Regions from separate parts of the Homo sapiens genome. Here regions 1, 2, 4, 5, 6 and 7 are each reported to be linked to region 3. The links are microRNA targets in miRTarBase. Many come from high-throughput screens and were not tested one by one. Region 3 holds a microRNA gene; each other region holds the end of a gene's coding sequence.
What was found. The annotated mature microRNA hsa-miR-548g-5p reads UGCAAAAGUAAUUGCAGUUUUUG and lies in region 3 at 1,644-1,666, opposite strand. An mRNA with a match to its seed (bases 2 to 7 or 8) in the 3' UTR can be bound and repressed. Matches are read on the target gene's strand: a 7mer-m8 pairs with bases 2 to 8, a 7mer-A1 pairs with bases 2 to 7 and ends in A, and an 8mer does both.

Region 1 (4,309 bases), not on the chromosome of region 3:
GGAAGACCAGCGTATGTTCCTCAGTTCCTAACTAGATTGATTTTAGTTGTGTTTACTTGGGATGTCTTCTAGGAGATAAGATTTACAGAACTGCTCTTTTAGACTATTTGTAGATTTGTGCTTTTGGGAGAGTTTTGGTTTCATGTTGTCTTGATTGCTGTACTTTGGTAACTGAGTACTTAGCATTTAAAAGAAGTGAAGTTCTACCTAAAAGGTATATCTCATTTACACAGGTTAAGTCATGAACAATATGAAAGGAAGCAGAATTTGGTATTTAATACTCAAATATATAACCAAAAATAGTTTGGTGTATAATACTCAAATATATTTTAAAAAATTCAAATATTTGACTTTTTTTTTGGAGTGTCAAAGTATGACCCAAGTTTTTTTTTTTTTTAAAGGTATTTGAAATAAGAAATACCGAAGACCTAACTGAAGAATGGTTACGTGAGAAACTTGGATTTTTTCACTAATGTGAACTTCTGTGTTTCTAAAGTATTTATGTATTAACCTGACCATACTGGAATCAGACATAAATACTTATTTATGCCTAAAAATGCACTGTTACTTACAGTTTGTTTCCTGCAGTAAAGAAAAATTCTTCATTTGTGCAAAATTTGAACAAAGAGGAAATCATCTTCATAGTAATGAAACTTTGTAAAGTGTTTCCTTATATTGGTAATTGTTAGGTGGACTACTTTTCTCCAGGGACTTTTTGCACTCTTGTGACTAATTTCTATAACTTATGGTTCGGAATTTGTTACTATTTACAGACACCATTGGAAAGTGGATATATTAGATTGTGAGAGACAACAGTTGCCTCCTTTTGACAAATACTGGATATTAGCAGTTTATTTATGAAAATAGCGTATTATCACTTGTCAAATCATTGAAATTCATTTGGGGTCAAAGACTTGAGTGACCCAGTATTGAGCCATGAATAATTTAGTGTAACCTGTATTACAAGTACATTGATGAATTCTGTATCTTCTTTGGTTTCCTGTATCTTTTTAATCAAGTCTAGAAACTATGTTCATCAGTCACTCATTTTTAAGGTCGGGAGTTAGATTTTATGATAGAATTATGACTGTTAGCTTTTCTCCTTATAGCATCTTAGTCTTAGAAATTGGTGGGTTGTAATAATCAAGGGCTTCATTCCTTTTATGTCATTTCTAGACAGTTTTGAATCTAGGTTAATAACACTTTATTTATAAAGCACCTCAATGTCCTGTGAACACTAATTATTTTAAATGTGTTAATACTGTGCCTTTGATTTGTTAGCTTTAAAGTTAGTTTAAGACTTTTACACTGCCAGTATTCCACATTTGGTGAAATTAATACTTTTTTAAAGGGTCCAAATAAAATAATTTTCTAATGTGTATATCTGAAATTTGTAATAAAATCAACTTCATATTTTAAAAATTCCAACTATCTGCTTGCATTGGTGAATATATGGCAGTCGAGAGTTATAATTTTGGGTATACTTGTGGTTAGTTTTGTGCCATAGGAAAAAATTATCTTAAAACTTTGGCCATAGTTAATAACATTAACACTTCAATAGCAATCACATCTTATATCCTAAATGTCAGAAGATATTCTGAACTGGATGCCTGAATAGTTAACTAAACCAGTCTTGTTAGATGATGGTACTCTTGGCATAAAGCGAGGATTCTGATATTTGGCATACTTGTAAAAACAAATACATAAGTAACCATTGAACATTAATTTGATAATAGGTCTAGAGACTCTAAAAACTAACCAAACTTGGTGAGTGTATTCTTATATTAAGAATATCTTAGTCATCTCAAAACTAGCAAAATTTAAATTTTGGCATGTTTTCCATTCATATGTTCTTTGCATTTTATTTTTGAGGTTTCTGTGAGAAGTAAAGATAGTTGGAATTTTTGCGATATTGAATAGAACATCTTCTGTTCCCAACACTGTTTGGCTTCACTAATTTAGAAGTCAGGAAGCAATAGAAAGTTGGAGATGAGGAAGTGCTAGAGTAGGTGTTTGTTTTGGTTCTTGGAGGGAAAAGATTCTTTATTCCAATTTCCAGAGAGAAGAGAAAACTCACCCAGGAAGTTTAAAAATTCTTTAAACAGGTATTTTGATATTGGAGAATAACATGCATATAATTCTGTAGGAATGCACATGTAATCCAAGTGAGTGGAGAGTGTTTTTAATGTTTTTGAATGAAGGAAATGAGGTTTTGTTTCACCTGTTTTGCAGCAGTAAGAGAAACTAGTGCTGCAAGAATGTATTTTTTAATGAAGTTCCTTATTTTGTCTTGCATGTTTTAGTTTTGCTTATTTTTAAATTTGGAGGTCCTCCATAATGTCAGATAATATTGACCTGCCATACGTTAGCACTCTTAGTTCCGCTACTGTCTTTAACAGGAGCAAAGAGCTGTGATAAACCATGCTTTTTTGAGCTTGTCTGACTCCTAATTAATAACATGTTTTTGGCAAGACAACAGATTGAGGTTAGAGGATCAGTAGGACATTTTTATTCCATCTGTCCTATGGGGAAATTTACAAATCCCGTGCTCTAAAATGTTCTCAAACATTTATATAGATTTCCCTTTCATCTTACTAAATTTTGCATTGTTCTTTTCAAGTATGTTTCGTATTTACTGTCTTTTTTTCTGCCATTTCCCAAATAATAACTCCAGATTTCATAATTCCAGTTTTTACATTCCGTTATCTTTCTGGTACAACCATTCCCATTCAGCCTTAAATCTGAGTCCTTTTTAGCAGCAACTTTTTTCCTGGGATCCTCCTTCGTGGTCTTCTAAGTCAGTGTTAGTTTTGAAATTTTTGGCCCTGCATAAGTTCTGCATAGCATCTAATGTCAAAATAGAACCAACTGGTAATCACAGTATTATTTAGTGTGGTTTCCATGACAACAAAAATACATACGAAGAAAACTTCTCAGGTTACTATGCTGAAATTCCAAAATGTCTGAGTTTTGAATAGTGATCACTTTGTTCTGGTATTGACGCAATTATATTAGGAAAAAAGTTGGTTGACTGTTTTTGTTTAATTGACTTCTAAAATGTTCAAATTGTCTAGTTCTAAAAGTTTACTAAATGCCTAGTGCAGTTAAACATACTCTTGTTTAAGTGTGTGTTGCTAAATTTTTTACTGTCATTACTAAATAATCTGTGTGGCAAAATGTGTGTCAGCACTTTTCCCTCCTTTTTTATCTCCTATTTTCAGGAGTCAAATGTAGCCATAAACTGTATCCTTGTCTGACACTTTAGCTAAAAATTTCCAGTTAGGGGAGTTTATTGCCAAATTAAATTTGGCTGTTCCCCCCAACCCATATAGATATTAAGGAAGGTGTACTTAAAAAATGTTTGGACTGCTTTTAAAACCTGAGCAATGTCATTAATCCATATGTGGACTAGTGATGAATAGATATTTTCATAAGAGTTTAAATGCTGATATTTGGTGGAAGTAGAGAGTAACTCATATTCTATCAATTCAAGTATTCTTACTATGGTTGCTTTCCCTATTTGTTCAATAGACTGATAATACTGGAATTTATAGAGTTTGAGCCATTACAACTTTTGTGAGGATGTGTTTCAAACATTTCTGGACAAATCTTATTTTGTATTTCTGGAAGAATGTAGTAATCTTCTAGACCGCTTAAAACCAATGCTCCCAAGCTGAATATTCTTGAGAAATTTGTTTTTATTATGCCATTTGACATTTCAAATCAGTGCTCATATACAGTAAACTTGTGATAGAAATTGTATTTTATTGCTTTTTGGATTATAATTCATATAAATATAATTACTTGAATATTGTTTGAGATCATTAACATGCCAGGGCAGTTCCCACTGATTTAGATGGTCCAAGATAATCTCATTCAGGAGGCTTGAAACATTAATGGTTTAGTCTTGTGAATTTTAACAGTTCTCTGTCATCGTTTAACAAAACCAACAACTGACACAACTCCTTAAGCTGTGGTTTCAGTCTCTGCTAGTTCATATTGCATGTTTATTTTGGACAGTCTTTTGTTAAGCATGGTGCTTGTACTGGTTTAAATAAAATGTTAACATTAAAAGACTTCCAGCTTTTCTTTTTTTACTCACCTCTTTCCCCCTTTGGAGTTACTGGTATGTACCTGGCTAGATTTGTGTGAGCCATAAACTTTATCTGGACAAACTGAGAGGCAAAATAAACAAGTCATTTGGCAGCTTGGTGGAAGGAGAAGATAATCAAGTTATAAAAATTTCTAAAACTTGGTCTGATGCTAAAATGTAGAAAATGTCAGTAAACAGTAGTAGGGACAGACAGAG
Region 2 (4,309 bases), not on the chromosome of region 3:
GCTGTTGAACAAATATTTCTAAATGTAATCTTGTCAAAACTTGCATAAAATAGGAGTTGATATCTGCATTCTGGATTCCTATTACTGGCTTTTTTTTTTTTTTTTGGCTGACATTTAACTTTTAGTGAAGAAACTGTAGGTTCTAATTTTTGTTTTAACTGAAAGCTATACAATCTTAGTCATAAGACATAAATTCACATATAGCCAATGTGATCAATTTAGCATAATTAACATTGAAAATATTACATTTATCCAAACTTCCAATATGTAGTACATATTTAATAATAAACATTCCATGTGTGTTTCATAAGTAAGGATTATTATGGTATCTCTCTACACTTTGAATAATTTTGGGGAAAATATGCATATGACCACAAGTCTAAAATTCATTATAGATAAAACATTCAAAAATATCCGAGTTTTTTAAAATTATGTTTTCAAACCTTTTGTAATTAATATGTTTTACTCAATCCATTTGGGCACATTAATTTTTCACAACTTGTGAACGATAGTAATCTCCAACTAATATCAGTTTCTTTAATTGAAAAATATATAAATCTAATATAAAGGCATTTTTTAATCTGTATAGCATTTTTTTAATCTCTACTTTGCTAACAAAGAGATAGGGGTGTGGGGGAAAAACATAATATAATTTAATGGAGTTTGCTCCTGTTAACCTAGACAAATAGTTATTGTAAATCAGATAGTAAAATCTGTTAGCTACAATAAGTAGTTTTGTTTGCCAGCTTAATTTTTAAATTGCCAATCTAATAACAACTTGTGGTTTAAGTTCTTTACATATTTTTTTCATGTATTTCACTTACTTTATATGGTTCAGGATTGAAATATTGTCCTATGAAAAATGATTATAGACTTTCTGGGTTATTTATAAGTTATATTAAATGAAAAATATTTTGTAAATATATTCTTGTTTTTATTTTGCAGGTAATACTAATAGAATTCTTACCAAAATATCCCATATTCCGACCTGACTGAGGAGTTTTATCCAGTCACTTCTGTGTTACCTGTCATTTCCTACCCTTAGTGCCTTGTAGATTTGGAATGAAGATGGTCTCCTTTGCTGTGTTCAACTTATTCTTTATAATGGTAGAATATTCTTCTCGCTCTTTTGTGTTGGTTTATGAAGAAAATTTGCACATCTTTTTTGTCTTTCAATGAGGCTTGTGTTTTGCACTCTCAATTTTAAATACACACACATGCGTGTGTGCATATACATATATAGATAGTTGCCATTAAAGATAAATCATCAGTGTTGGTGTTTAAAAAACAAAAACTTGTTCTGAGCATGCTGCCTTATAATTTTCATACTCATTGTTTCTAAACTCGCATCATTTTTCTAGGCTACTTGATGCTCTGTAATCCCTTACTGGACAAACTTAAATAAGCTTTTGGTAGCTTTTAGAAATGGTTTTACTCTGCTTTTAAAGGACATGCTTTTAAAGGACATGCAATTAATGGCACTGGTTTTGTCCTGCACTTTGCTTTATCACTTATGTTAGTGGATAAAATATTTAAACTCCTAAAGACTTGTAAATATTGCCTCTTTGCATAATGTAAAATGTGGTATGCCATGGTTTACATAATGTAACATTACTCTTATTGTATTGCCAACAATTTTACATAGATTTTAATATGAATGAAGTTTGCAAGCATCCCTTTGAATGTAGAAACTGCTAACATGCTGTTTTATGGCAAGGCCATAATGAGTATGTTAAGAATTTCAGGTGTAGGGCAAGGTTGCCCTTTGTAACAAGTGGACTAAAATTGAAATTATTATCTCAGATATTCTGTATTGCACCTGAAACCATGACCTTTATTTTTCCATTTCGTTTAATAATTTCCATTTTGTTGTCTACTCCTTCCCACAAAAAAACTATTTGACATCTGACACATTTCACAGTCTCACTATCCTGCATTTATTAGCCTTTTCTTCCTTTGAAAATACACACAATTATGACTTTTAAGGAGTATTTTGAGATTTCAGACATCTTCAGAAGGTATCTAGACCCTCTTGAAAGCCACTAACACCTTTCTGCAGTTCTGATATTCTAGTTTGAGAAAGAGAGAGAACTATTTGAGAAGCTGTAGCTAAAGAGTATATAGCAGCTGATTCATAATTGAAAAAAAATTCTCAATTCTGTTTTTGATGATCCTTTATAAAACATTAATGAGGAAAGACAAGTGTTTAGACAAAAGTATTTTAGTTTATAAATTCAGCACATATGTAACATTTATTTGGTCCATATTTCTCTATTTTTCTTCACAATTAAAATGATTGCTAGCACCACACAACTAGAATTTGAAAATTCAGTATAATGAAAGCTTTATATCACATTAATTCAACTGCAAATGTATGCCTGTTTGTAGGCATTATTTGTAATTCATAGTGCTAAAAATAAAAGTGTCTAGGGCTCAGTAATATTTTGTCATCTTACTCTTACTGCTTTTAGTAAACCTTTTAGGCAAGATTCATCTCAGTGAAGTGAACAATCATTTCTTCATAGAAGGTCAAGCCTTTTTAAGCCACTCTTAAAATTTATGCCTAATTTGAAATCCACAGTCCTTGACCAGTTTAAAAAAGAGAGGAAAAAGAAGACACTATTTTATATGTGATTATAATTGTTTGCACAAACACTTTTCCACCTTCCTCTGTGCCCCATTACCTCTGTGCCACTCAGTCACCCCAAATCTCTAACCTTTAGTAATGTGTATGCCTGCAAATATTATGTGTTTGCCTGCTGCAAAATTGAAGGTGTATTTTTATAGACAAGGTAGAAGCCTCTGAAAATGTATACCAAATGTCTTGTTTTGTAGCTAAGGTCGGGAAAAATTGTATCTGAGGTTTATGTTCCAGCTAATGTTATCAAATTTATGCTTCAAACTGTGATATTTTAATACCAAAATCGATTTTCAGCATAATACAAAATATCTCATTTTCACTGATAGAAAATTGCTTTTAAGTGTTGATCCTTAGAAATCTTATTTTTTTCTATAACCTTAGAATTTGATCATATGATGGTCATAGGAACTTTTTCTGCCATGTATAAATCACACTTGGTTTTGCTCAAAGAACAGCATGAAGTGGTGAATTGTTTCCATGAAACAATTATTGAGAATGGGAATACAGTATATCTGGAAATGACACAGTATAATACAAGTTACAGTAGCATTTGTCACAAAAACCACTTGTCAGCATGTGTAAACTTAATTTTAAAGCCTATTCTAATCACTCGAGTTTATTATTTTATTGTTCGCTATGCTGGTTGACTCATCTTAGTTTCTTCAACTACCCAAAAAAATACCAATTTTTTTCCTCTCTTGTATGACTACTTTTTCAAACTGTTTTCCTTTGCAGGGGGCTGATTAGCAATTGAGTATTTTGTAATGTTTGGGCGGGGTTGCTTTGTTTTCAGTGAAATTGGTTGCAGTGAATGCTAAAATGACACAGCACACTGGTGATTAATTCCTCCCCCATGGAGCCTTTTTTCTGTTATGCTTAGGATAGAACATACTTGTAATTTTCCATTAGGTTAGTAACATACTTTTGTGAAAGTTGTTTTTAGACTGAAGAAAGTAATTTTGAATTTCTTTGTTACATAATATTCCTTTATGAAACTTGTGATAGTTTCCAGAGCAAAACATGTATTTGCCAAAGTATATAAATCTCACAAGGCTTTAAGATTACAAGCTAAAATTGTTTTTTAAAATTAATGTTCCAATGTTTCTCATTTGGCCCAAGATTCTGGCTTCATAAATTTGTCCAACTGGCTATTTTTAAGCTTGTCCTAAAAGCCAATAACATGTTTATTCCTAATAACTAATATGGGCAAGTGTTATTTACAGATTTATTAACTCCATCCCAGATATGTCTCCACTCTTTGTTCCCTCCTAATGCTAATTTAGGAAAGAGACCACTGTAGTAAAACTTTAGAAGAAGATGGAGAAGTGCCTTGTCTTTTTAGAACAAAGATAACACATTACGTGTAAGGAAGCATAATAAATGAATTGGTAGATGATTAGATTAGAAATCATCCTTTTCAACTAGGTCTAAGAATACTTTACTAGTGTATTATCTTTTATTTATTATGTAAAGCTTCTTTCCTTCCTTTTCCCCAATCATGATATATTAGTGACAAAATATTACAGAACCGGACTATCAGTCACTTAAAAAAACAGTATAATTCTAATGCTAGTAAACATGTAATTTAATTTAGTTCTGGAAGGACAGTTGTCTTTGATTAAAGCCCCACCAAAACCCATTTAAGTATTTAATGTACATACTATTCAT
Region 3 (4,309 bases):
TGACCCCAGGTGTTTGCGACCAGCCTGGCCAATATAGTGAGTCCCAGTCTCTAAAAAAAAAAAAAAAAAAAAAAAAAATTATATATATAGCCAGGCATTGTGGTTTGCGCCTGTAGTCTTGGTTGCTCAGGAGGCTGAGGTGGGAGGATGGCTTGAGTGTGAGAGGTCAAGCAGTGAGCTGTGTTCATGATGCTGCCCTTCAGCCTGTCTGAGATTGAGACTCTGTCTCAAAAAAAAAAAAAAAGAAAGAAAGAAGAGAAAAGAAAAGAAAGCAAAAAGAAAGAAAAAAAAGGAAACTATGCCAGGCAGTAGACAATAAAATATCTTTGAAGTAGGAAGGAAAAATAACCATCAATCTAGAATTTTATATAGAGTAAAATATCTACAACAAATCAAGGTAAAACTGATACTTTTCCCAACAACAAAAGTTAGAGGAATTTATCACTAACTAAATTGAACTAGATGAACTATTACAGTTTTTAAGCAAGGAAGCTGTTATTTGATGGAAGCTAAGGTATACATAATCAAACAATGATTACCAATGTAGAAGTTTCCTTTCATTTTCTGAAACCGTTTTTGGGACATAACACGCTGCTTATACTGTGTGTTTATATGGTACAGTATTATGTTAAAATAAACTAATAACATAAGGATATATATTGTGAACACAAAACAACCATAAAAATAGTTATAGTTGATTAACAGTATTTAAAATGAAATACAAAAATAATAAAAGACTGACAAAGAGCAAGTAAAAAGCAACAACAAAAATAGATGGAATAAGTAATAAGCAAGGACAAAAAAAAAGAACTATTGTTCCTTCTTTCTTTTCCTTTCCTTCTGTGTCACTTTCAGCATAGGTAGTTAAATAATGCAGTAAAGTAACAGAGAAAATAAATTATGTAATAGGGTTCCATGGTTGTTTGTGTTTATTGGAAAGTCACTGCTTGTTTGCAATTGAATTGAGTTCTGGTTTTGAATGGAAAGTGTAGCCTCTTGGAGTTGTCAACCTTGCTCACTCATTTATAGACATAAAATGCTTATCTTGTACTCAGAGTCTTGCTGAACTTTCAAGCACTGTGGGTCCACAAGAATTCTGCGTTCACGTGGCATCACAAACGCTGTATGTGAATAGAACAGTAAGAAACTGAACATGTATATCACAGACATCTCTGCTCACACTTGTACTCAAGTGTCCCATCATACTGCACTTTTAAAACACAGAGGTAAAATTATTTAAAAATTTAAGGCAGTAATAAGAGAGTGTTAAATCAAAAACAGGGCACTTCTGAGCATGAAATCTTGTATGACTGTACAAGGTACAGTGCATGAAGCTGGCCCTACATGAACAAAACGAATTATTTCCTTCTAAGTTCTAGAACAAAGTAGAGATATCCAGTCTAACCACTGAAATTCAATATTGCATCAACATTCTTGCCAATGCAATATGAGAAAGATAAAAATTAATACAACACATGCCATTAGTAACAACGTTAAAAACATGAACACAGGAATAAACTTAGCATAATGTATGCCATACCTGTTTACTGAAATCTTCAAAACTTTGCTGAGAAAAATAAAACAAGATCGAAATATTAAGATTGGTGTGAAAGTAATTGCAGTTTTTACGATTGAAAGTAACGCAAAAACTGCAATTACTTTTGCACTAACCTAATATATTGCAATGTATAATGTGATTACAGATTGGAAGGCTTAATGTTGTTATGATAGTATCTCTCCCCAAATTGATCTATATGTTCAATGCATATTTAAAAAACAATTGTAGCAAAGTTCTTTGTAGAAATTGTTAAGCTAATTCTAAATTTTATATGGAAATCCAAAGGACATATTATATACAAAATGATTTCTAGGAAGAAGAACAAAATTAGATGAGCAGCACCTTTTTCTTCCAAGACTCCCTATATACTCCTTTTAGGCACCAGTCATAGAGGTAGTATGGCTGAGGTTTACAACTGGATGTATAGATAATGGAACAGAATAGAAAATCCAGAAACATGTCATTTTTTATGTGCTTAAATTTTTGAAAGTATTTCCATGGTTATTCAATGAGAAAAATTATAGTCTTTTAAACAATTTTATCCCAGAGGGAATGTAAGTATATTTAAAGACAAAAAAGAAACCTTAACTTATAACATGTCTGCACATGCTCATATACAAGAGGTATACAAGAATAGATGGAAGAGGAGTAAGATAAAAATACCAATTAAGGCCTTTGGACTAACAAGTGATGGAGTCTTTTTTTCCTGCCACTAACACTTTTCGTATAACTTTTTCCCCTAGAAATTGTAACTAGCCACAATTTGAAAATTAGAGATTGACAGTGAAGTGTATTAGTCAGTTTTCATACTGCTGATAAAGACATACCCAAGACTGTGTACTTTATAAAAAAGAAGAGGTTTAATGGACTCACAGTTCCAGGTGGCTAGGGAGGACTCACGAACATGGAGAAGGCTAAAGGCACGTCTTACATGGTGGCAGACAAGAGAGAATGTAGACAGACAAGTCTACATTGTCTTGGCAGACAAGTGAAAGAGGAAATAAATCTTCAGATCTCGTGAGACTTATTCACTAACAGGAGAACAGTATAGGAGAAACCATCTCCATGATTCAATTATCTGCCATGAGTCCCTCCCACAACACGTGAGAATTATGGGAGCTACAATTCAAGATGAGATTTGGGTGGGGATGCAGTCAAACCATATTAGTAAGTCTCCCCTGCATTATGGTGTACTGTTAGTGTGTCACTCATATCATATCAGATTCCTTAAACATTTGTTTGCATAAAGTCCCCATGTAATTCTATTCCCCATAGTAAGTACCTGCTTCTCTAGCACCATGTACTATGTACTATGCACAAGTAGCCAGAATCAGATTTGTCTACAGAATTGGAGAACTATTATCTCCGAACTTTTGTTCTCCTGCTAACAGCTCTTAAACATTGAGAGATGTGTGTAGAGGCTTAAATACTCCAAGCGCTTTTTCTCTAATCAGGAATAGACTATTTTTGAAGGATTGAGTAAAAGCTGTTCTTTGCAGGACTTTTCTATTATCATACTCATTTTTGGACTCCTCTCATGTCCTGTCTCATTTCCCCATGTGGTTATCAACTTGTCTAGGGATAATGTAAAATAACACATATCATGCTGGTCTCAGGACAAAACTCCATTTATTACAGTTGGTGCAAAACAGTCAGATTTTATGCCTATGATGCTGGTATAATTATTATACCATGATATTGACCCATTTCACTCCAAAACCCCTTCTAGTTTGTATAATAATTTATACAGTCATCATTTTATAATGTGAAATAGTCACAACCACAACCACATTCTACCCAGGAGAGAGAGTGTAGAAAAATCTATGATAATTTAGGAAAGAAAGAGTCAGACAAAGCAGGTGCTCTTGAAGTTTAAAAACAAAACACATTTTGAACATGCAAGAAACTTTGTGAATACTGTTTGCGGAAGCCTCCTTGACAACATTATGAGGGGATGAACTCCAGGTGGAAAGGAGTAATTGCTATTTAACAAATAAATGAAAGAAAGGCTAAAGTTGACAGAATAGATTATATATTGTATATGCTCTGATAATGTGGAAATAATTCATCTAACACAAAACGGAACAGATGGCTTTGATAAGAAGATAAAAAATAAAGTTAGTTTTCTGATTACATCATCGTAATTGCTAGATGTCAAAGGGTATTATTTAAAGCTACAAATCAAATAGTAAAAGATCAAGTCTATTTAAGGAAACAATGAAAAACACTCGAAAGTTATTGATATCTATTAAATGTGGGTGATGGTATCCTGGAAAGGGGAAAGGAAAACTATACAACTTCATGTTCATGGTGTTTAAAAGAATTGAAGAAAAAGGATATTTTACAAACGTAAAATCATTCATGCAATTTCTAGAGCAAAATTATAAACTTCCCTAAATATTAAAAATACACCAAAAGAAAAAATAAAAATAGACACCCATACTGAATATTTCATACATTGTGATGGTTAGTTTTTGTGTGTCAACTTGCCTAGGCTATGGTATCCACTTCTGTTAAACACTAATCTAAATACACCAGTCTGGATGTTGCTGTCTGATGAGGTTAACATTGATGATCAGTAGACCTTAAATGAAACAGATATCCTCCATAACGTGGGTGAGTCTCACCCAATCTGTTGAAGATCTTAAGAGTAAGGATTAAGGAAGAAATGGGATCCTCAAAATTTGAATGGGTCATCTGAAAATACTATAAATGAAGAAAAGGGAATTGTACTCTTAAATTTTACTGAAT
Region 4 (4,300 bases), not on the chromosome of region 3:
CTCACAGCCTTGTTCAATCTTCAGATTACAAATAACATTGATAGCATCTCCTGTGGCCTTCAGTTAGTAGTGCCAGTTAATATTGTTTCTGAAAACTTTCCTCTCAAAGTGCTGGCTATAATTTTTTCTCCATCCAGTACACATAAGAAAAGGATTTAGTAACACTTGGGCAAGTAATAAACTGTAGAACTTTAAAAGTAGTAAAGGCATATACCAAGCATACGTGACTCCACACATTGTCAGAAAGGCAGTGGACTGGCTAACGAGTTTCTGCCAAGTTTCAGAAGCAAAGAATGCACTAATGAAAAGGGTAAGGCATCCAAGCAGAGTGTCTGAATTGATGGACCACTTTTGTCTAAAACTAATTTCAACATCTTCCAATATGCAAGCAGGCATTTGTTTTACATAAGGTGAAACACTTTATAAGAGAAAAGAAAACTCCTATAAAGCTTATAAGATCAGAAAAAATTAATACTGAATTTTTATAATCAATGCATGGAGCAATGATATAAACTGACCATAACAATTTTGTGAGAACAAGTATAAAACTATCCATTACTACCTTAAAGAGTTGAAAGTTAAGCCCTCTAAAGTATTCAAAGTGGAATAAATAACAAGGTAGGAAATGCAATACCTATATATTTTAAAAAGCCCACATCTAGTTAATGTTCTCTTAGTTTGTTTTAAATCAGTTGTTCATCCAACCTGGAGTTGATTTAAGGATGTTGGTAAAAATCTTCAAAAGTCCTTCAAATCATTTTAGATGAAATGTGATAGAAAAAACTATACAACTCATTCTCTAATCTTGCTATTTTTCACACCATCCTTCCAAAAAAGAAAAGAAAAAAAACTAGATAAATTCTTCCACCGGAGTAACTGACATTAAGTGGCCACTATTCCTGTAGTAATCATTTGTAAGAATCTAAAAGTCTTGCAGTAGGGGACGAAAAATGATTATAAATATTTTAATAGGCTCATGCCTCATCTTCAAAAGGGATGAAACTTGGATAGTAGCAGATTCAGAGATTTATAATTTTCAAATTTACAACTAATAGACAGACACACTTTTGCAAGGATCTGTCCAACACATACAACTAACATCTAAATTAAGGCTTTTACTGGTATGTGATCAGGTCTAAGGGTATGCAATGCTGGATTTCCATTTAGCATCTCCAGCTTTCATTGTTACCCAACTTGTAAACCAGAAGATGTGCTGATGTACAGGGTAGGAGCTCCAATGGCTAACCATTCACCAACTGGAAGGCTTGTTTGTAAACAGGTTCTGAAACAAGAGTTGGCAGTGAAACAACTGAGGAGGTGCCTCAGATCATGCAAAGGGGAAAAGTGATTTGCACCTGCTGACATGATGGACATTAAAAAAAAAAAAAAGCCAATAGTTGACCTTCAGTTCAAGATTTCAAGATTTACAGACCTAAAAGTTTAGAACTACATCCAAGCCAATGGTTCTCATACTTTAGCTTGCAGAAAGTCACCTACAAGAAACCTGTGAAAATGCAGATACTTGGGCCCTATACCTAGAGATTCTAACTCAGGTGATCCAAATGGTCCAAGCACCTTTTGCTTTTGAGAAACCTTGCTCATAGCAAATAGCAGCACACAGTCTTTGATTAAAAGGCCAAGATGTCCAAGAAATAACACCAATGAGTTCATTACCTATAGACGAACCACTCAGGAGACTCTATCATAATAATATGATGCCTGAATTTATCCCCAATTAAGTTTCCCTTTCCTTTTTTCAATTAAAAAGTTTGAAATAAATTAACGTTTAATAATGATTGTACCAATTCTGAGGTAAAAAAAGAGCACCAGGGATCTCAATGCTAAAAGAAACAGAATTCCTTAGGAGGTCCATGCTACATAGAACCAAAATTTCTGCGGTAATGTTATAGAGTTGTAGTGCAAAAGGGACTTGTTTCAGTCTTTGTATAGTCTGTATACTTCTGTATACATTTAGTATATTATCTAATCTTTCCAGTTAATGTTTTAGAACTCCAAAGAGAAAAGTTAATCTACATGCTCTCTCAAGTTTTCTAGATAACCAACATTTTTCTGGTTTACAGTGATACACAACAAAGTTATTCATTTATTTTTCTGGATGCTGGAGACAAACATCTTTATTAAAGACACTACCAAAATTTTGGCAAACATTTCAAAACAGATTTGTAAACATAATGCTTCCCTTTTCAACTGGCAGCACTTTGAAAAGACAATACAATAAGACAATACAACTTGAATCAACATTAATTCAAAATCCTTATATTTTTGACCACATAACTTATGTTCCCACATGATAAAACAAGTGACAGTTTAAATCAATGTCAACAGATAAACTCCATGAAATGAAAGTTTGTGCTGTTTGATGAATCACAGTATGTTATGGTTAAATATATCCACTCTTTTTTATATTCCTGGCACCAGGATGAAAAAAAAAATCTTTAAATATACCTCTTATGTAGGTAATAGCTTCTTTGCATATCTCTCTTCAAAAAATACTTTATAGCAGTATATAAATAGGTTACCTACACATTTCATTTTATAATTTTGTCCCAAAACTATAGATCTGTTTCATTTTCATGACATATCAATTTTTGCCCAACATTAATAAAGCTGACAAACTCGTTGAAATGGAAATGCTTTTGTCTTCCACAACAAAAGTAGCAATTTGATAGAAGAAAAAAAACAAAAAAACAAAAAAACACCCTACAGTAACACTCGTCAGTTGTTTAACCTGAGCGTTTGGCCTACTAGGAGTAGCAGCTTTTTTTCCTTCATGCACGCTCACATCCACACCACCTCTGCACACATACAGATCGAGCACACACTTCCAGATGCTGGTAGGCCACAGTATGCTTCCCATTGCTCTAATCAAGTGGGAAGCAGTGTAGCTAATGATTAACCACACTATGTACACAACTAGCAAACACCTTAAGGCAACCATTGCAATGGGGGGTTAACTTGCAGGGCGGATTTAATGTTCTAGATCAAGTCAGCCTGTATATACATATGTGTATGTGAATCTATACACATACACCTTTCTATTTTTTAACCCTCCAAGACAATGTTTATTTTTTTAATTTTGTGCAAATTTCTAAATATTCTACCATTTAAGGCAAAGAGTTTGCATTAAGAAACGTCAGAAAATAGGCTTACGTTTATCCAAAAGCATTTCACCTTGCACATTACTGTTGTTGTTTTTTAAACACATACAACTTTTAAGTGTGGACACTGGATCCCCAATATCTAAAAAATCATTTCTAATAACAAACACAAGTTTTTGAGGAAAAAAAACTGATTTGAAATATAGACAATGGATCCCCAATACCTAAAAAAATTATTTCTATTAACAAACACAAGTCTTGGGGGTGGGGTGGTGGGGAGGACCAGAAAGAGCAGCTTCGAAATGCAGGGAAGCAAAGTAAAATGGAAAAGAAAAAGTAACTCAAGTTTACTAATACTGAAACTTTCAACAGCCAAAGTTTCACCTTTTTAGAATCTAGAGCAACTCATTTGGAATTTTAAATAAATAAGCTTAAGTTTATTCACATCTTCTGGTCCAAGCAGAGTTCTAGGACCATGACTCTGCTTGCTGTTGGTCAAATTCACCTATTAGCCTTTTGATGTGAGCCAGCTTGTTATGAAGATATTCACATCTGTATTTTTCTTCATGGTAATTGGGACTAGACTGCAGATGAAAAAAAAAAAAAAAAAAGAGGAATGAGATTGCAGAATTTACAACATTTTTCAACCACAGGTCAGAAAATCAACAGTGATGATACCTACCTGCTTTATCTTCTGATATTCTTGTAAGACTTCTTCATGAACATTCTACAAAATTAAATATTAGAAATCAGAAGAGAACAACTTCTTTTGTGTGTGGCAATACAAATAGATAACATGCATTCAGCAAGAGTATAGGAAATATTGACTGTGGGAATGTAACTTGAAACAATCTTTATGGAAGGCAATGTGGCAACAGCTATCAAAATAGTAAATGCAAAATCGACTCAGCAATTCTACTTATCCTATGGACACACTTGCTCCCCAGTGAATGACACATATACAAGATTATTCACTGTAGTGCTGTTTGTAAAGCAAAAGACAGTAAACAAAATTGAAATGTCCATCAATCTATACAAAGGATACTAAGAGGCCATTAAAACATGCCAAAGTGTTTTATGTACCAATATAAAAAAATTCTCTAAGATGCATTATATTGTTTAGTGAAGAAAGCAAAGTGCTGAACAATATGGACAGCTTGATACCATTAGTTTAAAAGAGA
Region 5 (4,309 bases), not on the chromosome of region 3:
CATATTTTTTAATGGAGCTGCCCACCCGAACATTACCCGATAACTATATTGCTATAATTAAGATTTTTGCCATGTCTTTATGTACAGTCTCCTTCACTGCCTTTTATTTTTTTCCTTAGACAAGCCTCAAATGCTCACGTCACTCCAGGGGTAACACGCTTCAGAGGCACTGTGAGTGGTGGGTGGCAGGGCAGCACACAAAGGCTGAACAGTGCCACGGAACTGATGGTTGGAGACACCACTCCCTACTCATGCCCTTGGGTGACCTTCGCCATCCTGAAGCTCTGCAGTTCTGGGTAAGGGAGGGGCGTGCAAGACCTGCAAAAGTGGGGCCCTTCGTCAGAATATACTTCCTGGTACACGAGGAGGAGGCCGAAAAGTTGATTTGAGATTTTATATATATAGTAGTACTTTTAATAGTTTTATCTCAAAAAGGAAAGAAGAAAAAATTGATTTGAAATAAAAAAAGCAACACTTGAACTAGGCCTTTGTATTCAAGAGGCAGGCAGGAATACCCACAGTGTGTAACTTGGTTAGCTAGAACTGCTCACTGGCAAAAAAGAGAGCGAGTCTGCCTTTAAAAAATACTGTGTGTCCTGTGAGGTTCATTTGTTCACCTAATAGGTCAAAGATACATGAAGAGCTTGGCTGAGATGATCTGTTTGCTACCAGGGCGAGTATCACAGAAATGATTGGACTTACTTTTGAACTTGCACTGCTAGGATCCCGCTGTGCTGTTCAGCATTTGGGCTATCAAACTGAATGGGCTAATCAAATACAATTCTCCAGCCCATAAGCATTGTTCTAAAGTATTCATTATTAAATGATATGCTGTGAGAACAATTGACAGTTTATTTTATTAGGCCATGGCCTAGGGGAAGGGGGCCAGGGGACTCCTTAAGACAGCCTACCATGTGTCACCAATTCTGAAAGATTTTCCTTCTAGTAATGAATACACTCAATGGGACTGGGCGGTGAGGGAAAGGCAAAATAAAACCAGCCTCCATTCAGCCTCTAGCCCTCAGGGGAAACGAAATCAAATATATAGTTAAGGTACCATTCCTTAAAAAAATCCCATCAGCATCTAATGGGTTTAATTCATCCACAGGAAGATTAATTGCTTAAAATTCTATATTTCCCTTCTGCTCTGGTTCTCAGTTTTAAAAGGGGAGATAAAATGAAAACAGGATTTACTTTTTTGTTCCTTAAAAATTGAACTTTGATTTTAATCTATCAGTCCAAATACATTCAACAATAGCAACCCTCTGTTCAATCTTCTGGATATTAAAAAAAAATCCAAGTGCACTGCCATCCATTTGAAGTAGTAAGTCACAGGTAAATCATATCCTATCATTAATGAAATGAAATGGGGACGAAAAGTGGCAGAAAAGGAATACGGGAGACTCCCTCCAACAGGTCTAATGTGTTTTCTAGGAGAAAGAATATTCATGTGTTAAACTCTCAAAAGTGTTAAACATCCAACATCCCCTATGTGGACATTTCAACAAATATTTTTGCCAAATATGAGACAGGCTCACTCTCCACTGTGGATCTGGAACTTTCAAGAAAAACTATCACCAAGCCAAGTCTGCCTTTTTAAGCCAAGTCTGCCTCCAGGAGAATTTGTTGTGTTTGCTTGTTCTTACTATTGTGTTGTTATGAAAACCAGTAATGAGTTCAGCTTGCAACCCAGGTGGGAAGTTAGAGAGGGGAACCTGTGTAAGTTGAAGTTTGTCACAGTAGGCAGAACAGTCGCTTTGCAGCCCAGGCCCATCTCAGGGTGCACTGCTTCACAGCTACACTGCAAAGTGTTAAAAATCCTCCCACCCACCCCAGAATATATATATATGTATATTAAAAAAAATCCCCTGTCCATCTCTCAGTACACAAAAGGACCTCATCACACTGCAAAAATAGCAGTACCCACTTTGGTCAATTAAAACAAACAAACAAACAAAAAAGCATACATTATTTTTTTTTTAAATCTGTGTACTTACCTATAATAACCAATACAGCTAAAAGCACTACCTACATAGGCAAAACTTGGTATTGCATAATTCGTATAAATTTGAAACCCCTCCCCCCCAAATATTAATTGGAAGATGAAAAACATGAAAGGTTAATAGAAAAAAACACCAAAATACTGAAAATATTGCTGGTCGATTACAATTTTTAAGCGGCAACTATACACAGCCATGATATGCTTTATAAATGTGAGATAAAGGTATAACTGTCTAAAAAATCCATGATGTCACACATTTTTCTTCGTCTGGAGTACAAAATATTTTGTCATAAAAATGGTAAAGATTTAAAATGATAATAAATGCAGCAAAACAAGTGTAGTGATGTCACTTTGTTGTATTTTTTTGTTTTTTTTTTTTTGTTTTTTGTTTTTTAGATTTCAAGGCAAGGCACGTAATGTGGACATTATATCTTCGTGCAAATTAGGATTACTGGAAAGAGTATTTTTAATTAAAATTTTAAGAGACATAGAGGCAAAATGTGTCTGCCCATGCACACTATGGATCTGTCAATACAAGAAATTTGTTGAACAAGGCTAATGTCTGAAAGCACCATGCAAGTTTTCAGCACCCTGATTACATTTGTTTTCTCAAGAGTGCGTTTTTATATCCTACACCCTGGCGTTCCCAGTTTGTAAACTGTAAGCTTTACCCTTGTGACATGGATTTGCCTGCCTCTTTGTCTCTATAATGCAGATTTTATAGAACCTTTTGTACACCCTATGGGTTCTTGATGCAACCAGTAATTTTAAATAAATAAATTCTACCTCCAAGGAGGCTGCAGCTAAACCAACATAAGTGCTGTGTTTTCATTAATTTTATTTTTCTCAAGCACATGATTTGTCTTGATTTAATGCCTTTTTAATGCCCTCAAAAACTGAGGGGAAAATAAATTCGTTCAAAATTATTTTAAATTCTTTTTAATCCCCTCAATTTAGAGTCCAAGGGCTGAAGGACTTATAATCATGATTCCCCTTTAGATATAAATTTATAAATTGCACTTGCCTCTGTTAAGTGTTTCTTTTGTGGGGAAAATATTATATTAATTTTTACTGTTGCATGCAGAGAGAACACTTCACCTACATAGAGGCATTTCTTCCATAGAGCCTTTGTGTTCAAACTGTTTTTTTCCTTTTTTCTTTTTTTCCTTTTTTTTTCATTTTTTCTTTTTTTAAGATTTCAAACTGGGTTACACACTGGAAAAGGCTGGGTTAAGGGCCGAAATTTAATAAATCTGTACTGATAACTAAAGGCTACAGAGATTTCATATATTTTTTTTAACTTTTAGAAATCAGAGTGCTTATAAAATGGCTGGCTCATGGCTCTGTCACCCAGCACCTCTGACGCCGCCTCCTAGCCTTCGTTGGTGAGATAACCAGGAATAGTGATTCCATGCGTAAACAACAAGAATACTAAACCAATAAAACTAGCTTATCATGCAAATATTAAGGCATCTAGAAAGTCAGTTAAAATATATTGTCATAGAGACAGAACATCTATTTCCCAGCGGACTTCATGTAACAAAGGCTACGTTGCAGGGGCTGCGATCTACCATCAGTGAAATATCATCGACCCTTTTTATGTCATTACAGTTTCAACCTTAAGGGAATTAGTGATTGTAAGTGCTGCAATTGCTGGTCTATTATCTTCTTTCTTCAGTTTCTTTCCTTTCTGCCTTTGTGTTGTTTTGTCCAGTCTTCCTCTTTTCCTTTTTTTTTATTTAAAAAAAAAATTTCTTAAACTATTGTTGTGTTTCTTTTTCCCTCAGTTGCTTGTTTCTGCTTGAAGGAAAGGTTCTCCAATTATGTTCAAACCGTAATTTTGGACATTGGCCGGTAAGATGGGTGTCCTATTTGACACTTGGAAAGGAACCAAGCTAGCCCAGGTACCAGGACTGTTGAGAGGAGAGAGGCAGCAGGGAGGGAAGAAAAAAGAAAAAAATACAATGTTAAAATCTACAACAATATGAGAAATATAAATTCCAGATGCATCAAATTATTGCTATCCCTATTTTCAAAATTACAGTCTAATATGAGATAAATGTGCCAAATTATACATGTTACACCTATCTAAACTCTATAGTCTATTTTTTAAATGAAAATTAAGACTAAAGTGAGGCAGAAAAATCCAGAGTAAGATATATAAACAATTATTGAATTCTAACCGATTGAGGATATTCTAAAATATTTTACATTAATCAATATAAATGCAATATCATTCTTTTTTGTACAGGAAAAAAAAGAAAAAGAAAAGCAGCAATCTGTTGGTACCAATATACTTTGCCAGTT
Region 6 (4,309 bases), not on the chromosome of region 3:
GATGTCTTTGAATGGCCCAGAGGAGACAGAAGCAGACACAATTCACTCCCCATTTCATAGGAAAGCAAGTTCTCCACCTGCCTTGCTTTCCACTGAATTCCAGGAAATTGCACCATTTCTGGCAATAAGTAATTGTTACTTAGGTGAATGAATAAATGGAGGAGAGTCTAAAAGTGAATTTAGAAAACTGCAATTGGAAGAGGAAGAGAAGACACAGAGAGAGGCAGAGATGGAGAGACTGGGGAGAATCTGGTAGCAGAGACCCCAGGTGAGGGAGGTGGCTTAGAGACAAAGTGGTCAGTGGCCTGACCCGGACTCCTCTGCTCTCAGCCCTCAGTCTGCAGGGCTCCATAATGACAGTAGGAGAGAAGGTCTTCTCCAGCAATGGGCAGTCCATCACTTTTGATGCCATTCAGGAGGCATGTGCCAGAGCAGGCGGCCGCATTGCTGTCCCAAGGAATCCAGAGGAAAATGAGGCCATTGCAAGCTTCGTGAAGAAGTACAACACATATGCCTATGTAGGCCTGACTGAGGGTCCCAGCCCTGGAGACTTCCGCTACTCAGACGGGACCCCTGTAAACTACACCAACTGGTACCGAGGGGAGCCCGCAGGTCGGGGAAAAGAGCAGTGTGTGGAGATGTACACAGATGGGCAGTGGAATGACAGGAACTGCCTGTACTCCCGACTGACCATCTGTGAGTTCTGAGAGGCATTTAGGCCATGGGACAGGGAGGACGCTCTCTGGCCTTCGGCCTCCATCCTGAGGCTCCACTTGGTCTGTGAGATGCTAGAACTCCCTTTCAACAGAATTCACTTGTGGCTATTGGGACTGGAGGCACCCTTAGCCACTTCATTCCTCTGATGGGCCCTGACTCTTCCCCATAATCACTGACCAGCCTTGACACTCCCCTTGCAAACTCTCCCAGCACTGCACCCCAGGCAGCCACTCTTAGCCTTGGCCTTCGACATGAGATGGAGCCCTCCTTATTCCCCATCTGGTCCAGTTCCTTCACTTACAGATGGCAGCAGTGAGGTCTTGGGGTAGAAGGACCCTCCAAAGTCACACAAAGTGCCTGCCTCCTGGTCCCCTCAGCTCTCTCTCTGCAACCCAGTGCCATCAGGATGAGCAATCCTGGCCAAGCATAATGACAGAGAGAGGCAGACTTCGGGGAAGCCCTGACTGTGCAGAGCTAAGGACACAGTGGAGATTCTCTGGCACTCTGAGGTCTCTGTGGCAGGCCTGGTCAGGCTCTCCATGAGGTTAGAAGGCCAGGTAGTGTTCCAGCAGGGTGGTGGCCAAGCCAACCCCATGATTGATGTGTACGATTCACTCCTTTGAGTCTTTGAATGGCAACTCAGCCCCCTGACCTGAAGACAGCCAGCCTAGGCCTCTAGGGTGACCTAGAGCCGCCTTCAGATGTGACCCGAGTAACTTTCAACTGATGAACAAATCTGCACCCTACTTCAGATTTCAGTGGGCATTCACACCACCCCCCACACCACTGGCTCTGCTTTCTCCTTTCATTAATCCATTCACCCAGATATTTCATTAAAATTATCACGTGCCAGGTCTTAGGATATGTCGTGGGGTGGGCAAGGTAATCAGTGACAGTTGAAGATTTTTTTTTCCCAGAGCTTATGTCTTCATCTGTGAAATGGGAATAAGATACTTGTTGCTGTCACAGTTATTACCATCCCCCCAGCTACCAAAATTACTACCAGAACTGTTACTATACACAGAGGCTATTGACTGAGCACCTATCATTTGCCAAGAACCTTGACAAGCACTTCTAATACAGCATATTATGTACTATTCAATCTTTACACAATGTCACGGGACCAGTATTGTTTCCTCATTTTTTATAAGGACACTGAAGCTTGGAGGAGTTAAATGTTTTGAGTATTATTCCAGAGAGCAAGTGGCAGAGGCTGGATCCAAACCCATCTTCCTGGACCTGAAGCTTATGCTTCCAGCCACCCCACTCCTGAGCTGAATAAAGATGATTTAAGCTTAATAAATCGTGAATGTGTTCACATGAGTTTCCATAGCTTTGGTTCCAAGAAATATCACATTTCTGTATTTTTGTAAATCAAATGAACTCTGACTCTGAGCCCCCACTTGCCTGAAGATTGGAAAATTCAATCTCAGGATGTGCTTTCTTTGTTTGGTAGGAGGAGCCACCTCCTCTCCTCACTATGATGCTGCAGAGGGATGGGGAGCTACAGCCACCATTTGGAAGAACATACGGGCTTCCTGAGTCCACATGGTCCATTTGTGGGTGGGAATACCATGTCTTCTGTCCCCTACTCAGCCACCTGAATGATTTCTGCAGCCCAGCAGTGATGGTGGCACTCAGGGCTCAGTCCCAGGCCTTAGTGAGCCATCCTAGTCTCAGGTCTGCATGGAATGGGACCACACTCTCATGACCCAGGGCTGCGCAGGAATGAGACAATGTCTCCAATTGCTTGAGGAGGCAGCTACATATGTGTCCCACCTCCCACTTCTCCCCCTATAACACCTGTGAACACTCTTTCTCAGTGCATTTATTGCTTTTCTTGGGCGGAAGGAAGCTCAGAAAACCAATGAGAATAAGAGGAAATTTTTCTCAGTCTTTTATGAGTGATAATTTTTAATCTGATCACCATTCCATATGTGCTTAGGACCCAGCACAGAAATTATTGAGCCTTCTTCAAAATTAAGAAAAAAAGCAAGTAGAAGCATGTACAGATGTATCTCGACTTATGATGGGGTGACATCCCAATAATCACATTGCAGGATGAGAATATATTAAGTGGAAAATGCATTTAATACACCTAACCTACCAAACATCATAGCTGAGCCTGGAGTAACTTAAACATGCCCAGAAAACTTATGTTAGCCTGCAGTTGGGCAAAATCATCTAACACAAGGCTGATTTTATAATGAGGTGTTGACTGTCTCATGAAATTTATGGAATGCTGGACTGAAACTGAATGAATAATTCAGTTATATGTGTACTTGAAGTATGGCTTCTACTGGATTTGCATTGCTTTTAAGTCATTGCAAAGTGGAAAAATTGTAAGTCGGACAGTTGTAAATCCAGGACAGTCTACATTCCCAATTATATAGATAAATACTTTAAGCCTCTGAAAATTTGCATCTATTGAGATAATCATGTGGTTTTTGTCTTTAGTTCTGTTTATGTGATGAATCACTTTTATTGATTTGCGTATGTGGAACCAAGCTTGCATCCTAGGGATGAAGTTTACTTGATTGTGGTGGATAAGCTTTTTGATGTGTCACTTGATTCGGTTTGCCAGTATTTTGTTAAGGATTTTTGCATCAATGTTCATCAAGAATATTGGCCTGAAGTTTTCTTTTTTGTTGTATCTGCCAGGTTTTGGTATCAAAATGATGCTAGCCTTACAGAATGAGTTAAGGAGGAGTTGCTTCTTTTCAATTTTTTGGAATAGTTTTAGTAGGAATGGTACCAACTCTTCTTTGTACCTCTGGTAGAATTAAGCTGTGACTCCATCTGGTCCTGGGATTTTTTTGGTGGGCAGGCTATTTATTACTGCCTCAACTTCAGAACTCATTATTTGTCTATTCAGGGATTCCATTTCTTCCTGATTCTTTCTTGGGAGGGCGTATATGTCCAGGGCATATTTATCCATTTCTTCTAGATTTTCTAGTTTATGTGCACAGAGGTGTTTATAGTATTCTCTGATGGTTGTTTGTATTTCGTGGGGTCAGTGGTGATATCCCCCTTATCATTTCTGATTGTGTCTATTTGAATCTTCTCTTTTCTTCTTTATTAGTCTAGCTAGTGATCTATCTATTTTATTATTTTTTTCAAAAATCCACCTCCAGGATTTGTTGATATTTTTAAGGTTTTTCGTGTCTCTGTGTCCTTCGATTCTGCTCTGATCTTGGTTATTTCTTTTCTTCTGCTAGCTTTGGGGTTTATTTGCTCTTAGTTCTCTAGTTCTTTTAGTTGTGATATTAGGTTATTAACTTTCTAACTTTTTGATATGGGCATTTAGTGCTATAAATTTCCCTCTTAACATTGCTTTAGCTGTGTCCCAGGGATTCTGGCATGTTGTGTCTTTGTTCTCATTAGTTTCAAAGAAGTTCTTGATGTTTGCCTTAATTTCATTGTTTACCCAAGAGTCATACAAGAGCAGGTTTTTCAATTTCTATGTAGTTGTGTGGTTTTGAGTGAACTTCTTCATCTCGAGTTCTAATTTGATTGCATTATTGTCTGAGAGACTGTTTGTTATTATGTCAGTTCTTTTTCATTTGTTGAGTGTTTTACTTCCAATTATGTG
Region 7 (4,309 bases), not on the chromosome of region 3:
TTTTCGTCGCCAATCCTATGCAGTCTCATAACTTTAGAAAGGATTATAATTTCCCTTTTTTTTTTTTGACTCTGGTATCCTTTTTAGATGATGAAAGTTGTTCAAGTTTATGCAGACACACAAGAGATTAATTTGAAGGTAAGCTTTTCAGACCATGCAAACTTGGTGAAGGAATATGCATTACCAATAGGTGAATATTCCTATCTTTTGCTTGCAGGCTGATTCAGAAGTAGCTCAGGCAGGGAAAGCAGTTGCATTGTACTTTGAAGATAAACTCACAGAGATCTACTCAGACAGGACCTTCGCACCTTTGCCAGAGTTTGAGCAGGAAGAGGATGATGGTGAGGTAACTGAGGACTCTGATGAAGACTTTATACAGCCCCGCAGAAAACGCCTAAAGTCAGATGAGAGACCAGTACATATAAAGTAAAATGACATGGATTTAAATCAATTGTTTAAAAAAAAAAAAACGAAAAAAAAAAAAAAAACACAAAAAACCCAGAAAACTTTTAAGTGTTGCTGGAATATCCTGCCTACAGTGGGCACCTCCTTGAAGAAGCTGATAGCTTTTACACAGTATTAGATTGAAATAATGGACAGAAACACATTCTTGTCAAGAAAGGGGGAGAGAAGTCTGTTTGCAAGTTTCAAAGCAAAAAGCAAAAGTGAAATGATTTGAGGATTTCTGTTCTAATGGAGATGATTCTCTGATTGTTAGAAATGGCAAATATTGATGATTGTGTGCTATTGATTGGTGCAGGATACTTGGTATACGAGTAAATACTTGAGACTCGTGTCACTTGATAAATTTTCTTTTTGGACTAGGTCGCACAGTTATTAAAACAACTTTTAACCCTCCCCCTTCACACACATACATATCAGGTTGTTTTCTAGTTAAAAACCCAAGTAGCTCAGATTCTACTTTAATGTCAGTGCAGATTTGCATTGAATCATGCCATTATGTTTTTTCTCATTTTTATGCTGTTGGGTCTTAGTTTTTAAATTGATATAAAGAACTCAGCAATGGTTTTATTTTCTACTCATACTTAGGGTTTAGGAAACACTACCACTAGTTATCATTTAATCAACTTCAATGGTCTACTGAAACAAAAATGGTAACTTTTCATTAGTGGATTATTTAGAGTTATAGTAGTTGTTTCCAGAAAACACTTCCTCACAATTGTACTTCCCAATCAAATCATGTGATCATACAGTTATTCCCATGAAAGGCAGAATGTTTGTTTCAAAATTAATCTAGTTTTCTGTACATTTAAATTTGAGAAGGTGACAACTGGCTCTTTTCCAGTCTTCCTTCATGTCAGTTTTCTGATAGACCACTATTGGCAAACAGTATCTGTCAACTACCAAATGTGTAAAATTTTCTGTATTTCACTTTGTCTTATTTGTAAATAGTGAACTAAAACTTTTGGCAGATCAGCAACATTTGCTGAGCCTGTTTTTTAAGCTAATGTGTATTCTTACTAATGTTCCTATCAAGAATGGATTTGTAATATATGCTGTCTATTTCTAATGTTCACATTCATATTTTGAGGTTCTATCTTATTTTAATAGAGAACAGACTTCTCAAAAAATCTTCAGAAGCAGCTTATTATTGAAATATCGAAATATTGAAATAAACCCGGTGGGGTTAGATTACTCATCTGTCCACCAAGTGGGACATTTGCATGGACTGGGGGCTTAAAGGACTTAGAAGAGACCTGTAAGTAAATCCTGAAAATGAGCCAATCCCCACTTGAATGGTTACTGGAGTAAACCCACCTTTACCACCCCAATTACAGCACCCGAGGCCGATAAACCAACTTGGCTCTGGTTCATTTTTCTTTTCTTCATTTGTGATGCTCAGATTCAAAATGTGTGTTCTACACTGTTACAGGCTTCTCTTTTGTTTGATTAAAGATTTTAGTCCTACTTTTGTATGGACACATTAGAATATTCAGAGACCAAAATAGAAGAATTTGCTGTTAGATATTTTTCAGAAGTCAGCAGATTTGTGGCAAATCATTTATTTGCCTTTTTAAAAATTCATTTAAGCAGTTCAGAGAGTAGACTACTCAGAAAATTATTTCACGTAATTGTCTAAGAGGTCAATATTTTTTAATGCATATTGAATCAAATAAAGTGCTCTAAAGAAATTATTATACAAATTCCTTTGGGTTGTTTTTCTTTTCTTAACAAGGGGTGGGGGTAAACAGGAATATGATTCAGGCTTTCTGGTTGTGTATTTAAAGAGTATTGATTTTATTATTACTATTGATTTACTTTATTCCTGGCTTCCTTTTCACTTTTCTTTCAATTTTTAAAAAATAATTTAAGCCGTTGAAAATATACCAAACTGTTGAAACATTTTACTCAAATTTTAAATTCCTAAAAATGTTTTTTAATAAGAGGGAGAAAATTATTTAAAAATACTTATGCCTATGCCAATTTCCCTCTTTTTTCACAAAATCCATGATTTCAGTTTGTAAGTAGACATATATCTAAGGGCACATTTTTGGAAAGTGAGGAATAGCAGCAGTATAACTTCATTTTGTCAGGCCTTTGAGTTCTAATATTTTGTATTGCTCTTCAAATGGATCCTTTTAAAAAAATTGTAGATAATGAGTCATAAATAGATTCTGCCAACTGAGGGGAGAAACATTTTAAGTAAATATTTTTCAGTATTTGGGGCCTTAAAAAATAATTGTGTTTCCTTAAAATTACATGTTAGATAGAGTTTTTAGGTTTTTTTGGTTTTAAGATTGGTTAAAGCAATTTAAAAGCCACTTTTTTGTCAACATTTAATAGCCTCCACTTCTGTTAAGATAATGTATACTGCTGAGGAATTACTATTAATAGCTATCAACATACCACCATTAAATTAAGGTATTCACTTTAGATTTTTTATTAAAGCTTTTTTCTTGCACACTGATCGTTGTGTTTCTAAGCTGATTTTTTCAGCTCTAATATACCTATGGTTAAAAAGTATAAAAACTTAAATTGATATTTAGATATATGTTTTCCTATTAGTTTATGTTTTAAAAAGACAAAATTGTATCTGTCAGTCCCTGAAGGCAGTTTGTTTTTATACTCTCTCACATTTGTATTTGTTTTTTAAATGGCAGTATTTTAGAAGATTTGGAGAAAAGTCCACATAATAATGTTTTCTTAAAAGCTTTTAAAGTTTTTGCTGTACTTCAATTTACTTCTTCCATCAGAAAACTAAGAACAAAGTGTTGCTCAGTCTGTTCCGCTGACCTAAATTTGTGTTTTCAGCACTTGGCTCAGCCAATTCACTGAGTGAAGGAATTGCTTTATGAGGCAAAGCATGTGAAAGTTCTAAAGTATGGTTAGATTGTAGGTCGTGCTCTATATGGAAACATCAAACCATTACTACAGAGAAATGATAAGGCATTGGATCCACTATTGAAATTATTATTTTTGGATCAACAAGTTGGTACTTTCTGACTTCTGTATCTTAACATAAGGGAATTTTAGGTAATGCTAAGTCAGTTGTCTCATTTTTTGTGATAAGTTTTGGAATTTTTAGTTAATTGAAATAAATAATGCTTTTAAATAGAAGTAAAAGGTTTATAAGTGTGCAAATTGTAGATTTATCAATTACCTCAGCAGGTATCCTGCCATGTAATTATTAGTGATTAGTGTTAATAAGATAATAGATTCAGGTCTTCCAACTATGCCCTTGGATTGTGGCCTACTGTATGTTATTAAATGGTCTCTTACTATCCAAAATGGGAGTAGATGCTGTGGCCCCGTCTCCCTTGGCTTTTACGTCCCATATCCACCCCCATTCATGTACAACATGTGAAATATAAAAATCTCATTTCTTGTCAAAATCAGCACTGCTTATTTGCATACTCAGCATCGGATCAGTGAGTAGTTTTATAAAAAATCCACGCACCCAACTCCCTTAGTTAAAACAGATTCTTAATTCATACCATGAATTCTTAATTTCTGTACCATCTATGTTAATGATCTGCTGAAGGTGACTCAAGATTTTCAAGGTGTAATACAGTTTGATCATGTACCGGACCTGGATATTTAATTTTTTTTCCCTCACAGTTAATCTCCTCCTTGATAAAGCAATAACACTGCTTTGAGTCTGTTGCCTAATAGCATGTCAGAATCCTCTCCTGGATGGTGATTTTATAGGAAAGTTTGTATGCATATCACCCAGTCTATCTTTTAAAAATTAAGAAATTTAAATGTATGCTGGAAGTAATGACACTATATTGTGGCATTTTATTTTAAAAATTGGGGAAAGTTGCATATTTTTTTAAAAGTAAGTGTT

Region 1: the mRNA of GMFB is a reported target of hsa-miR-548g-5p. Seed matches in the 3' UTR shown: 7mer-A1 at 714-720, 7mer-A1 at 2,225-2,231 and 7mer-A1 at 2,600-2,606.
Region 2: the mRNA of CHIC1 is a reported target of hsa-miR-548g-5p. Seed matches in the 3' UTR shown: 7mer-A1 at 1,188-1,194.
Region 4: the mRNA of ELL2 is a reported target of hsa-miR-548g-5p. Seed matches in the 3' UTR shown: 8mer at 1,919-1,926.
Region 5: miRTarBase lists NFIB as a target of hsa-miR-548g-5p. Seed matches in the 3' UTR shown: 7mer-A1 at 1,907-1,913 and 8mer at 320-327.
Region 6: miRTarBase lists SFTPA1 as a target of hsa-miR-548g-5p. The part of its 3' UTR that is shown has no 7-base or 8-base seed match.
Region 7: the mRNA of TRIM33 is a reported target of hsa-miR-548g-5p. The part of its 3' UTR that is shown has no 7-base or 8-base seed match.

Annotation. Positions count from the first base shown.
Region 1 is chr14:54,474,252-54,478,560 of GRCh38, reverse strand. GMFB (glia maturation factor beta) reads left to right here. Exons shown (of 7, transcript NM_004124.3): 7 at 402-4,076. The coding sequence ends at 473. Among named protein-coding and RNA genes, the nearest start is that of GMFB, 13 kb to the left of the region's middle.
Region 2 is chrX:73,680,010-73,684,318 of GRCh38, forward strand. CHIC1 (cysteine rich hydrophobic domain 1) reads left to right here. Exons shown (of 6, transcript NM_001039840.4): 6 at 946-4,309. The coding sequence ends at 996. Among named protein-coding and RNA genes, the nearest start is that of CHIC1, 120 kb to the left of the region's middle.
Region 3 is chr21:18,684,492-18,688,800 of GRCh38, forward strand. It overlaps MIR548X (microRNA 548x), which reads right to left and starts at 1,673; the gene lies at 1,599-1,673. The region is part of intron 2 of MIR548XHG (MIR548X host gene); the gene reads right to left.
Region 4 is chr5:95,885,285-95,889,584 of GRCh38, forward strand. ELL2 (elongation factor for RNA polymerase II 2) reads right to left here. Exons shown (of 12, transcript NM_012081.6): 11 at 3,802-3,846; 12 at 1-3,703. The coding sequence ends at 3,587. Among named protein-coding and RNA genes, the nearest start is that of LINC01554, 35 kb to the left of the region's middle.
Region 5 is chr9:14,084,412-14,088,720 of GRCh38, forward strand. It overlaps NFIB (nuclear factor I B), which reads right to left. Exons shown (of 11, transcript NM_001190737.2): 11 at 1-3,915. The coding sequence ends at 3,898. Among named protein-coding and RNA genes, the nearest start is that of LINC00583, 160 kb to the left of the region's middle.
Region 6 is chr10:79,613,407-79,617,715 of GRCh38, forward strand. It overlaps SFTPA1 (surfactant protein A1), which reads left to right. Exons shown (of 6, transcript NM_005411.5): 6 at 331-2,037. The coding sequence ends at 707. Among named protein-coding and RNA genes, the nearest start is that of SFTPA1, 4.6 kb to the left of the region's middle.
Region 7 is chr1:114,393,769-114,398,077 of GRCh38, reverse strand. It overlaps TRIM33 (tripartite motif containing 33), which reads left to right. Exons shown (of 20, transcript NM_015906.4): 19 at 88-138; 20 at 218-4,309. The coding sequence ends at 430. Among named protein-coding and RNA genes, the nearest start is that of TRIM33, 120 kb to the left of the region's middle.